3 separate regions of the Homo sapiens genome follow, and regions 2 and 3 are each linked to region 1. Evidence: fine-mapped expression QTL. A gene starts in region 1. Each other region holds a variant in brackets. All regions are shown on one strand. Distances are from middle to middle.

Evidence for each region.
Region 2: its variant is fine-mapped to the expression of TRIM61 in whole blood (TOPMed, PIP above 0.99). The same link has a PIP of 0.9 or more in blood mononuclear cells.
Region 3: its variant is fine-mapped to the expression of TRIM61 in whole blood (TOPMed, PIP above 0.99). The same link has a PIP of 0.9 or more in blood mononuclear cells.

The regions. Positions count from the first base shown.
Region 1 is chr4:164,975,580-164,979,820 of GRCh38, forward strand. It overlaps TRIM61 (tripartite motif containing 61), which reads right to left and starts at 2,078. Exons shown (of 3, transcript NM_001414904.1): 1 at 1,952-2,078; 2 at 1,109-1,246. RefSeq lists enhancers at 2,187-2,266, 2,297-2,356.
Region 2 is chr4:165,009,835-165,014,075 of GRCh38, forward strand. It overlaps the pseudogene LOC391713 and the pseudogene RPL21P51. Among named protein-coding and RNA genes, the nearest start is that of TRIM60, 20 kb to the right of the region's middle. The variant T/C (reference allele first, on the strand shown) is at 2,076.
Region 3 is chr4:164,953,955-164,958,195 of GRCh38, forward strand. It overlaps FAM218A (family with sequence similarity 218 member A), which reads left to right and starts at 2,994. Exons shown (of 1, transcript NR_160935.1): 1 at 2,994-4,241. It also overlaps a transcript of TRIM61 not described here. RefSeq lists enhancers at 2,744-2,793, 3,094-3,253. The variant C/G (reference allele first, on the strand shown) is at 2,539.

The DNA of each region.
Region 1 (4,241 bases):
GTGCAGGACGTGCCTTGTTAACAAAATGTTTACAAGCAGTATGCTTGGTAAAAGTCATCGCCATTCTCTAGTCTCAATAAACCAGGGGCACAATGCACTGCGGAAAGCCACAGGGACCTCTGCCCTTGAAAGCGGGGTATTGTCCAAGGTTTCTCCCCATGTGATAGTCTGAAATATGGCCTCGTGGGATGAGAAAGACCTGACTGTCCCCAGCCTGACACCCGTAAAGGGTCTGTGCTGAGGTGAATTAGTAAAAGAGGAAAGCCTCTTGCAGTTGAGATGGAGGAAGGCCACGGTCTGCTGCCTGCCCCTGGGAACTGAATGTCTTGGTATAAAACCTGATTGTACCTTTGTTCAATTCTGAAATAGGAGAAAAACCGCCCTATGGTGGGAGGCGAGACATGTTTGCAGTAATGCTGACTTGTTATTCTTTACTCCGCTGAGATGTTTGGGTGGAGAGAAACATAAATCTGGCTTACGTGCACGTCCAGTCATAGTACTTTCCCTTGAACTTAATTATGACATAGATTCTATTGCTCACATGTTTGTTGCTGACCTTCTCCTTATTATAACCCTGCTCTCCTACTACATTCCTTTTTGCTGAAATAATGAAAATAATAATCAATAAAAACTGAGGGAACTCAGAGGCCGGTGCCGGTGCAGGTCCTTGGTATGCTGAGCGCCGGTCCCCTGGGCCCACTGTTGTTTCTCTATACTTTGTCTCTGTCTTATTTCTTTTCTCAGTCTCTCGTCCCACCCGACTAGAAATACCCACAGGTGTGGAGGGGCAGGCCACCCCTTCATAAAGGACACAAGAGGACTCACTCCAGGTATCATTGTGCCCTCCTTTCCCCAAGCATACACCCAAAGCAGTCTTCTCTACTATTTAAAATCAGGACATTAAGTGAACAGAACAGCTCTGTAGGCACAGTCACCACCCTAGTTTAAACCACTTATGTCTCTCTCCTAGATACACAATGGTGCCTCCAATTTCTGAAGTCTGTAGCTAAACTGACCTTTTCAAATACAAACAGAATCCTTTCATATTTCAACTGAAAACATTCCACTGGTCCTTTATTACTTTATGGAAGCAATTCTCAAATCTTACCTTGCATTATAATCACCTGGAGGTCTTGGTAAAAGATTGCCTGGGCCACATCCCCAGTTTCTGACTCAGTAGGGCTGGTTTTTTCCTAAGTTCCCAGATGATGCTGCTGGCCTGCGGACTGTACTTTGTGAACCTATGCTTTAAGGAAAACAAAGCAAAAAGATCCATTAAGATCTAGTCCAAGTTTTTTGCCTAGCTCCCATCATGTCACATATCACAGTTATGTGATTTTACAGCTACTCTGCAATTCTTTACCTAACTGTAAAAACCCCTCACCAGGCAGCAAGCTTCTTGGTGGCAATACGTCTCTAGCTTGTTTGAGGAATAAATAAAACCTGTGGTAGATTCCAAGCTCTCAGTTTCAACCATCATCATACTGGCTGATTCTTAACATGCCTGCACCTAAAGCGCCTCATCTACAAAGTTGAAATGATAATTCGTACCTGTAAGACCCTTGTGAGGATTACAGGATGCTTACATAGGTCGAGGGTGCAGACGACGTAGGCTGGTGGGTTCTCAACTGGCAGCTACCACTTCGCTCCCTTAACTCCCCAACCCCCACTCCCAAACACGTACATTAACTCTTTGAAGATAACATAGCCACTTCATAAACCCTAATTCAGATCATAACATTTAAAGCTTAATTGATACAGGCTCAACACCCCCATTCTAACTCTACAATCCTGAATTTTTCACAAGAGCTACGCCAGACACTAAGGAGATCCAGTCGTGGGCAGGCAGCGACCCGGAGGTTTAGGCACAGAGAATGTTCAAGAAGCCCCTGTCCAGTTAAGCCTCCTGGCGAGGCCCTTCTGGGCCTTTCCTGCGGCCTTCCCAGCTCACCTGGAGCAGACGGATCAGCAAATCCGGCCAAAGAATACTCAGGACCCACCGAGCCCCCGCGAGGAAGGACTCATACCCCAACCCCACCAAGTGGGCTGCTTCCTGCCTGGGGCTCAGCCTGCGCGGTGGTTGGCAGTTGCCCCGGAAGTGGGCGGGAAGGACCTGCGCATGCTCTGTGACCCTGGGTGCAGGGATTGTGTGAAGATTGAGAGCTGGGGGCGCCCTCTTCCGTGATCAGGGCCCCGTTGGCCCCAACTGGCATTTAATTCCCCTGGCTGTCTTTTCGGATTCTTATCACTTTTTATGTATATGAGTAAACTTGAGGGTCCAAGTAAGTCTGCAAGTTGGTTTTAAAAGCTTCACCAGCACAGCGTCCCCTCCCAGATGGTGAGGGAGTGGAGAGCTTTGCAGGGTCAACTGCTTCCCGTAGCCTGGGGTCGCAGGGTGGAGTCGTTGAGCACTCCCTATGCTTGAAAGAGGAATAGAAGCCCCTTTGGATTAGTTTGCATCTCAGTGGGTGAGTGGGTGGATCTCTCCCACCCTGTGGGATTGTGCCCTACCCTATGAACTCAGGTTTACCTGAGGAAGTGACATTTCAGGCGGAATTTGAGGGATGAAGAGGCATTCGTTGGATCAATTCCACGGTCAAAGTCTTCAAGGCTGGAAGAAGAGCCAATGTGGAGCCTCTCAACTTTAAAGAATTTAGTACAGGCCGGGCATAGTGGCTCACACCTGTAATCCAAGCACTTTCAGAGGCAGAGGTGGGAGGATCGCTTGAGGCCAGGAGTTCAGGACAAGCCTAGGTAACATTGCCAGACCCTGCGTCTACAAAATATTTTAGAAATGATTTTTTTTTCTTTTAATAAGAGACGGAATCTCTCTTTCGCCCAGGCTGGAGTGCAGTGGCGCGATCTTGGCTCTCTGCAACCTCTGCCTCCCAGTTTCAAGCAATTCTCCTGCCTCTGTCTCCCGAGTAGCTGGGTCTATAGGCGCACGCCGCCACGCCTGGCTAATTTTTTGTTGTTGTATTTTTAGTAGAGACGGGGTTTCATCGTGTTGCCCAGGCTGGATTCGAACTCCTGAGATCAGGCAATCCGCCCGCCTCGGCCTCCCAAAAGTGCCAGGATTACAGGCGTGAGCCACCTCACCCAGCCAGAAATGATAATTTTATTTTTATTTTTATTTTTTTTTTGAGACGGAGTCTCGCTCTGTGGCCCAGGCTGGAGTGCAGTTGCGTGATCTCGGCTCACTGCAAGCTCCGCCTCCCGGGTTCACGCCATTCTCCTGCCTCAGCCTCCAGAGTAGCTGGGACTACAGGTGCCTGCCACCACGCCCAGCTAATTTTTTGTATTTTTAGTGGAGACGGGGTTTCACCGTGTTAGCCAGGATGGTGTCGATTTCCTGACCTCGTGATCCGCCCGCCTCGGCCTCCCAAAGTGCTAGGAGTACAGGCGTGAGCCACCGCGCCCTGCCTAGAGATGATAATTTTTAAAAACTTGGTACAAAAGGAACTGAAAGAGGTCATTTGGTTGGCACTACAACGTGGGAAATTGCAAGAAGTATAAAATATGGAAAATGGCTTTGTGAGGCTGATGAGATAGGCGAGAATGAATGCTGCAAGGCCCTTTAGGCAAAATTGAGGATATTGGTTTTTATCAAATGCAAAGAAAAGCCAGTGAAGCATTTTAAACATGAAGTACTAAGATTTGAATTGTGGAATAAAGACCCGTCGATGCCTTTAATATATCCTAGAAAGGGTGTATGGTGGACAGTTGAATAGAGGTGTGACCTAGACAAATCAACCGATAAAGCAAAGTCCTTGTTCGTAAACCTTTTGAAATTCCAGAGTCTCCTGAAAAAGAAAGGAAAAGAAATACCAGTGGCAGCAGCTTCCCCCATATTACTTTGCAGTGAGGTGAGTGCATGGTATTTATTTGTTATTTTCGCCCAGGCTGGAGTACAATGGCGCCATTTTGGCTCACTGCAAGCTCCGCCTCGCGGGTTCAGCCTCCCTGGTTCAAACAGTTCTCCTGCCTCAGCCTACAGAGTAGCTGGGATTACAGGCGCGTGCCACCCACGCCCGGCTAAGTTTTTGTGCTTTCAGTACAGACGGGGGTTTCACTGTGTTGGCCCGGCTGATCTCAAACTCCTGGGCTTAAGCGATCCACCCGCCTCGGGCTCCCAAAATGCTGGGATTACTTAAAGGTGTGAGCCACTGCACCCACCCTGTATATTATGCTATTTAAACAAACTATGCAGCCAGCAGGGTGGTTTCTTTCCCTGTCACAGT
Region 2 (4,241 bases), 34 kb after region 1:
TTCACAGGATTTCAATGATTGAAGTTGGCATTTTTATCCTTCTGTAGTTGATTCTGCTTGAGTCCAATACGTTAAGTTACTTTCTCAGGTACCTCATGGAGGATGTGACTAAGACTAGAATCTAACCCAAGGACACAGCATCTAGTTCACAATATGATGTCATTTCCACAAAACCATGCAACCCTGTGTGGTTTATTTGGATGTGGGTAGATGGCTGAGAGTGAAGGGAAGAATCAGTGGTTGCCTCAAATGTGGTATTGAGCAGAGCACAAAAAGAAGGAAGTTCTACTCTAAGGTGGGCCCTCTTCAGCAGGTTGGGCTCTGTGGGTACCAGGAAAATGGCAGCCTTTTGTAAATGAAGAAATATTTTCTCATCCCCAGGACCTCACAGGCACTTTAGAGTCGTGTTTGCTTTCTGAACAAGAGAATTGCTTCGCAGCTACTTGCCCAACTGCTCTATGACCTGCCACAGGTGAAGGCAGAGCTGCTCTCAGAAGCTGAGGCTGGTGACCCCAGAGGACGTCAACGACTGACTTCAACAGACAGGGAGACCTTCAGGACAGGAAGGTCAGGGAGATCTGAGGGCAGAGTAGCTTCTCTGTCCAGACCTTCATTCACAGCCTGATGGCGGAGGCAGCAGCCCTGGCAGGACTCCAGGAAGAGGCCAAGTGCTCCATCTGTCTGGATTACCTGAGCAATCCCGTTCCCATTGAATGTGAACACAACTTCTGTCATTCCTGCATCCAACAGTCTTGGCTGGATCTACAGGAATTGTTCTCTTGCCCTGTCTGTAGTCACCAATGCCCAGAGGGAAACTTCAGGAGCAACACCCAGCTGGGAAGGATGATTGACATTGCCAAGCTACTCCAGAGAGCCAGAGGCAATGACGTCAGGCAGGACAAGATGCCCCTGTGGGAGAAGCACAACCAGCCCCTGAGTGTTTTCTGCAAGGAGGACCTGGTGGTGTTGTGTCCCCTGTGCACTCAGACCCATGACCACCAAGGCCACCATGTGAGCCCCATAGAGGAGGCTGCCTCCCATCACAGGGAAAGGCTCCACAGTTACCTTGAGACCCTGAAGTTAGGAAGCTGTGAGCCACCCAGGACAGAAAGTTGTTGGAGCTCAGAGAGAAGACAGAAAGCCAAAGGCAGGAATTATCCTCTCAGTTGAAGCACCTAACGAAGTTTGTTGACCATGAAAAGCAGGCAGCTTTCTGTAGATTAGCTGAGGAAAAGACGGACATTCAGAAGAAACTCGGTGCAAACATAAGGGCATTTTCAGAACACATTTCCACCCTGAAAGGTCTGCTTACGCAGGTGGCCGAGATGAGTGTGATGGCAGATGTGAAACTGCTGATGGATGTAAGGACCGTCCTGCACAGGTGTAAGGCCTGCAGGCCCCAGCTGTCCACTCTATGCAGCTCCAGAAGGAAGGAAACAGGCTTCCCCTGCAGTACTCGGCTCTTCAGAAAATCATACAGAAGTTTAGAGAAGTTACTCTGGATCCTGAAAGTGCACATCCTCATCTGCGTGTCTCTGAGGATAAGAAATGTGTGACATTTGTGAAGGAAAGTCAGAGAGTTCACTGGAATCCAAAGAGATTGTTGTCCCATCCAGTGGTCCTGGGTTCTGAGGGATTTGAGTGTGGCCGGCATTACTGGGAGGTGCAAGTGGATGACAAGCCAATGTGGACCGTGGGGGTGTGTAAGGAATCCCTGCCCAGGAAGGGAAAGTGGCCCCTGTCAGGACAGAGCATGTGCTGGGCTATCCAGCTGCAGAATGGTGAGTGTGTGGCCTGAGGCGCTGTTCCTGTCATCCTTCCGCTAAAGGAGAAGCCCAGAGGAATTGGCATTTATCTGGACTACAAGTTGGGCGAGATCTCCTTTTACAATTTGAATGACAGGTCTCACATCCATTCCTTCACTGATACATTTTCAGAAGTACTGAAGCCTTATTTCTGTATGGGGCATGATTCAAAACCTCTTAGAATCTGCATAATGACAGATTATGATGGCTGAACTGTGACATTGCTTCATTTTCTTCCTGTAATTTATACAGTTGTCACTGAATTTAGCA[T/C]CCATAAGTTTTATAAAGTACTTTTATAAGTTTAGTCTTCTCATTTTGTTTTATCTTATTTTCAAAAATTATTTTGTTTCAATAGCAAGAGATATTGTAGAAATTAACAGATGTGAGGATAAACTATTAAGTGTTCTGGAAATCTAAAACTAGAGTGTATGAAATTGTGATCCCTTTAGTCTAATCAATTTTGCATACAATAAAATATTTTCTGTATCATACAAATTTCAGGTGGCAGAGAAGACATGACTGTGGGAGACAGTTCTCTAAAGGTCTCTCCCATTTCTGCATGTGTTGAGAGCAATGCACTCATTGCTCCAGACTATGTATTCAAAGAGGTTTTTGTGGGTAGATGTTATGAAAAGGCTAATATTGTATGATTCCTACAACGTAACATTCTTTTTTTTTTTTTTTACAGCCCAGAGGTCTTTTATTTATTTTTTGTTTTAACACCTATTATGCCATGAATTCATAGGGAATAGGTTCCAGCAGCTCAGACTCCTTCCCATTGGTTCTCACAAAGTGTGCTTCTCTGGGTGGAGCAGGCTGGCGCTTTAGTTGAACCCAGGTACCTTTCTCTTTGGCTTCTTTCTTTTTCTGATCATTTTCCTTCATGTGTTTCAGGAAGCTATCTCGGCTCACAGTGTTTAATGTGCTCAATACGCACATTAATTCTCTTGGCAAGAATCTTGCCCTTAACTTGTTTGTTTACAACAATGCCAACAGCATGCTGGGTAACATTGTAGACTCTTCCAGTTTTGCCATGCTAACACTTGTGGGGCATTCCTTTTGAACAGTACCCATTCCCTTGGTGTCTACAATATCATCTTTCTTATAGATTCGCATATACGTGGCCAAAGGAACAAGTCCATGTTTTCTAAAGGGCCTAGAGAACATATATCGGGCGCCTCTCCTCTTTCCCTTTGTGTTCATCATTTTGGTGAATTACTGGAAGATGGTGGCTCTGGCCGAAAGGCATAAAATTCTTAAAATGGAAAAACTATGAAGACAGTAAAAGAATTAGTGGTTGACGGGGTTGGAGGGTGCGAGAGATGAACAGGAAGAGCACAGAGATATGCTAAATGCAGTGAATTACTCTGTGTGGTGCTATGATAGTGAATACACACCATACATTTTTCATCTGCCACAAAATGTAAAAGTGAAATCCTGTGTAAACTATGGACCTTGTGTGATAATGATGATTCAATGTAGATTCATCAGTTGTAAGAAGTATGCCACTCTGGATGGGATGCTGTTAGTGGCAGAGGCTGTGCTTATGTAGGGGAAGGGCACATGTGGGCTATATCTGTACATTCTGCCCAATTTTGCTGTGCATCTAAAATTTATCTTAAAATAAAATTTATGGAAAATACAAGAAAAAGTAAAAAGGGTACTTTTTTTTCTTTGAGACGGAGTCTCGCTCTGTCGCCCAGGCTGGAGTGCAGTGGTGCAATCTCTGCTCACTGCAACCTCCGCCTCCTTGGTTCACGCCATTCTCCTGCCTCAGCCTCCGGAGTAGCTGGGACTACAGGCGCCCGCCACGACGCCCGGCTCATTTTTTGTATTTTTAGTAGAGACGGGGTTTCACCGTGTTAGCCAGGATGGTCTCGATCTCCTGACCTCGTGATCCACCCGCCTCGGCCTCCCAAAGTGCTGGGATTACAGGCGTGAGCCACCGCGCCCGGCTGTAAAAAGGGTACTTCTACTTGCCTCTGTGAGAAGCACAAAGGATGTTTTTCTGATATTCACTGCGAGAACCTGATAGAGTTTCTGAGAGGTAAATCTCATAGAAATATAGGGCTGGGTCATCAATAACAAGGTCCCCCTGGAGTAGAGATGAGCCTGGACTCAGGGAAGGGGCAGGAACCTTAGGTGGGGTTTGGGGGGTGGGAGGTGACCTCACCAGACCAGTGGGCCTGTGGAGTGATCCTGCAAGGGTGCCTCACAACAGTCCATGAGGATGAAAATGGTTTGGTTTGGGAGGCAGATTTGAGGCCAGCAGAGTGGATAGTGGATGATGCAGGCTCATGAGACAGAGATGTGGTACACCTCAGTTTCCCAAGTACACTGACACACCTGGCTAATTTCTTGTATTTCTTTAGGTTTCACCATGCTGCCCTAGCTGGTCTCACTTCTGAGCTCAGGTGATTTGCCTGCCTTGGCCTC
Region 3 (4,241 bases), 22 kb before region 1:
CCACTCAGTGCATGATGTGTTACTTCCGCAGCTCCCACCCCATCACAACCATTCTGCAGGTCCCTACCCCTGTCCCCTTCACCAACCCAGGACCCTGCAGGAGCAATCAGAGAACAAGAGAGAACTGCCCTCTGGGACCTGTCACTTCCCCCATGCTGACTGCATAAGGAAAAAAAAACTCCCTACAGGGTTTAAGACTGAATTCGTTCTGAGGTCACCATTTTGGTGAACAAGAAGTAGGGACTGTGTTGCGTCTTCTGACCTGGATCGACGAAGAAACAGCTCTGCAAGGATGGAAAAAGCTGACAATCCCCAGTGAACTGCTGACAAGTGAATACAGGTAGGCTCCGCACCCTACACTAACCCTCTACTGGGAGCAGAATATCTGAGTGAGGATTGCACCAGGAGGCACAGGTGAGCTACACTCAGTAAAGGGCGTGCAGCCTTTGGCTGGACCTAAGCTGGGGAAAGTAGCCACATAGGAAGGAACCTTGGGGAGTTTGTGCATTTTATTTTTTAACCATCAGTTTTGTATTATTAGAAAGATAAACATTCCAATATACATCTAAAATTATATATATTGATTATAATTCAATATGTTCTTGTATTAATTAGCATATTTATATGTACATATTATACAGAAATACATATAATTACATACCTTACAAATGTAATTAAAATTTTATTATGGTATAGGAACATATACATACCCTACACATGGTTGGCAGCATGGCTATAATCCCAGCACTTTGGGAGGTCAAGGCAGGAAGATCGCTTGAGGTCAGGAGTTCCAGACCAGCCTGGGCAACCATCTCTACAAAAAATAAAATATAAATATGCTGTTTTATATTTACTTAAAATTTTATTGGCCCAGCACAGTGGCTCATGCCTGTAATCCCAGCACTTTGGGAGGCCAAGGCAGGCAGATCACAAGGTCAAGAGATCGAGACCATCTGGCCAACATGATGAAACCCTGTCTCTACTAGAAATACAGAAGTTAGCTGGGCATGGTGGAGGGCACCTGTAGTCCCAGCTACTCAGGAGCCAGAGGCAGAAGAATCGCTTGATCCCGGGAGGCGGAGGTTGAAGTGAGCCGAGATCGTGCAACTGCACTCCAGCCTGGTGACAGAAGGAGACTCCATCTCAAAAAAAAAAAAAAAAAAAATTATTATGGTATTATAGTAGTATACACATGTCCTACACATAACCTATTTGGTTCACTCTTTACTCTGACATCGTATATGAGACAGTTCTTTTGTATGTTGTATGACAATCACAGATTTGGACTTCTCATAAGGGGCCTCATGCTGGTTTGCCCTAATTACATCTAATTATGTCTGAACTGTTCTGCATAATCAGCATATCTACCATTAAACAGTCAACAGAAGAATCAGAAACACAAACCATTCTTGGAATATATTGAGTTCTGTGCCACACCAAATCCTATGTTTTAAAAAATTTTTTCCAGGCTGAGCTCAATGGCTCAAGACTGCAACCCGAGTAGTGTGGGAGGCCCAGGCAGGAAGATTGCTTGAGGTCAAGAGTTTGAGGCTACAGTGAGCTACGAACTTGCCACTGCAGTCCAGCCTGGGTGACTAAGAGAGATTCAGTCTCAAAAAAAAAAAAAAAAAAAAAACAAGTTTTCCAGAAGATATGTCTTTATTGGTGTTTATATTTACAGAAAACTTAAAGGGAAATTGAGGTTGATTTTCCTTGTCTTCATGTGACCACAAAAGGATGAAGAGAGGATATCAGGGACCAGCCCCAGATGACTCAGGTAATCTGAGACCAGGCCTGGGATCCACACACAAGACACACACACCCAGATGGAAGCACAATGCCTAGTCTCGCTCTTTCCTCAATCCCGATTTAAACTAATTTGGCAGTTTTATGAGATTAAAGAGGGTGTAGACAGGAAATTGGTAGAGGATGGAAAATCGATTAAGATTAGGGACAACTGTGAGGAGGAAGACAAAGGAGACAGAATCTGAGAGCCCTGAGGCGGACTGAAAACGGGGAGGCGGCTCAAAGAAAAGAGTAAGAGAAATGAGCTTTTCTGGAACGAGGCATTGATAACGCTGAAACATGATTAGCCTTTTGAAATAAATCTTTCGTTTATTTATTTTTTTGAGACAAGCTCTCGTTCTGTCGTCCAGACTGAGGTGCAGTGGCGCCATCCTGGCTCACTGCAACCTCAACTCCCCAGGTTCAAGCGATTCTCCCACCTCAGCCTCCGGAGTAGCTGGGACCACAGGGGCGGGCCAACATGTCCGGCTAATTTTTGTATTTTTTGTACAGACAGGGTTTCACCATGTTGGCCTGGCTGGTCTCAAACTCCAGAGCTCATGTGATCCGCCCACCTCAGCCTACCAAAGTGCTGGGATTACAGGCATGAGCTTCCATGCCGGGTATAAAAGGAAGCTTTTAAATTGTGGAGTATTTCATACATCCATAATAGTAGAGAGAACATTATGAAGAACGTACACATAAAAAGAAACCAATTTCTATCATTTGAATTAACAATCTTTATAACCCCAG[C/G]AACTTCTCCTGCCAATGGAGTAAATTCCCAGACATCTTATAATTTCATCTGTATATTTCATCTTATAATTTCATTATTTATTCCCTAAAAGACAATATCTCAATTATCATAGTGTTACTGTAACTTTTAATAAGCTGTTCAGTGGGAATTATAACCATATTTTTCTCCAACCAGTTATAAATAAGATTCAATAAATTAAAACAGCAACTGGAATTCTCTTCTGTTAAGGCGGGGCAGGGAGAGCCCTCAGTCTGGCACAGGTAGGGTTGGGTGGCAGAAGAGCAAAGCAAACAGCTGAGGTTCCTTCAGAATGCAACTTTCTCACAGAACACAAGGCTCTCAAGGGGCTTCAGCACCCCAAGCACTGCAGCGTTTCTCCCAGGAGGCTGGGCGAGTCCGTAGCGGAAGTCGGAGCGGCAGAGCAGTGATTGGGTGCGGCCGGCACCGTCTCTGGGCTTCGACTTCCGGGTGAGACCGTGAAGGTGTGGCGCGACGTTGGAGACCGGGGCAGCGCCATGTACCACAGTGGATGGAAGGATGCGCGGTGCGGCGGGGCAGCTGTCCTCTTCTCCCCGGACCCAGCGCCTGGAGAGCCAGCCCTGCAGGGTGGGCTGGGCGAGCCAAACTGCGTTCCTGGTGCAGGGCTTCGGGTCTCCCTAACAGACCTTATACGCTGACCGGCGGCCGCCATGGCAGTGTCTCTTTGCTCAGACATCCAGGGACGACCACATTCGTCCAACAGCGGTCGCTCCACCAATCCTGGGAGAAGCGAATCGTTTTCTCCGCGTGCCCTGTCAGCCGCTCATGGTGCCCAGAGAGGAATTTTAGTGGCAGCATTCCGGCTGTCACGCCACCGAAATTGCCAGGCCACTCCAAGTCAGAAGGACCACCAGGAAAAGTCAGGAAGAGAACCACCATCAGGTCCCAGCCTCTTTTTGTGACAAGGACTAGAGGGTTTGGGTCTGCAGTGGGCTGGCTCCCGCTGGGCTCACCTGTCCTATAGAGCAGGCTGCCTCAAGGAAGAAGCTCACAGGGGACATCTGACATCTGAAACAGCAAGTGTAAAATGCTTTAAATAAGCCAAAACTAAACCAATCGTTATGTTAACTAAAAATACATGAATGCTACCGAAGATAGTCGAATATTAGAGGAAGAGATTAAACTCTGATTTTGAGCACTTTGTGCTTTATTCGGAAAATGAATAAGATGCAGTTCTGAAAACCTGAAAATATAAAGAATAGGATATGATACGCACACTAGATGAAAACAAAACTTTCAGACCATATTTTCTTATTTAAAGCTCTAATAAGTGAGATAGCAGAGTAAACTATTCACTCAAATAATTAGTAACTGATATAAGGGTATGTATCAATAACAGGTATTAAGACAAAAACTTTATGAGCTTTTCCATTTTAACAAGGGATGATGATTCTAGACTTCTGCCACAACATTATGGTCGACAAAACATTCTTAATTCATTTTACATAGATCTGACTCTAGATTCTGAAACAGCAAGTCATAATCTTGTATCTCTAAAGATAGAATACAGTGCGATTTGGAAAGACACCACAAAAACTCATGATCCAAAAAAGATTAAGGCTGTTATTACCAGGAGGAAGAGAAAGAGGACAAAATCAAACTGGATAGATATAATAGAGTTGTTTGTTAGAATTGTCTTCCCAGGAGATGGAAAAAGACGCCA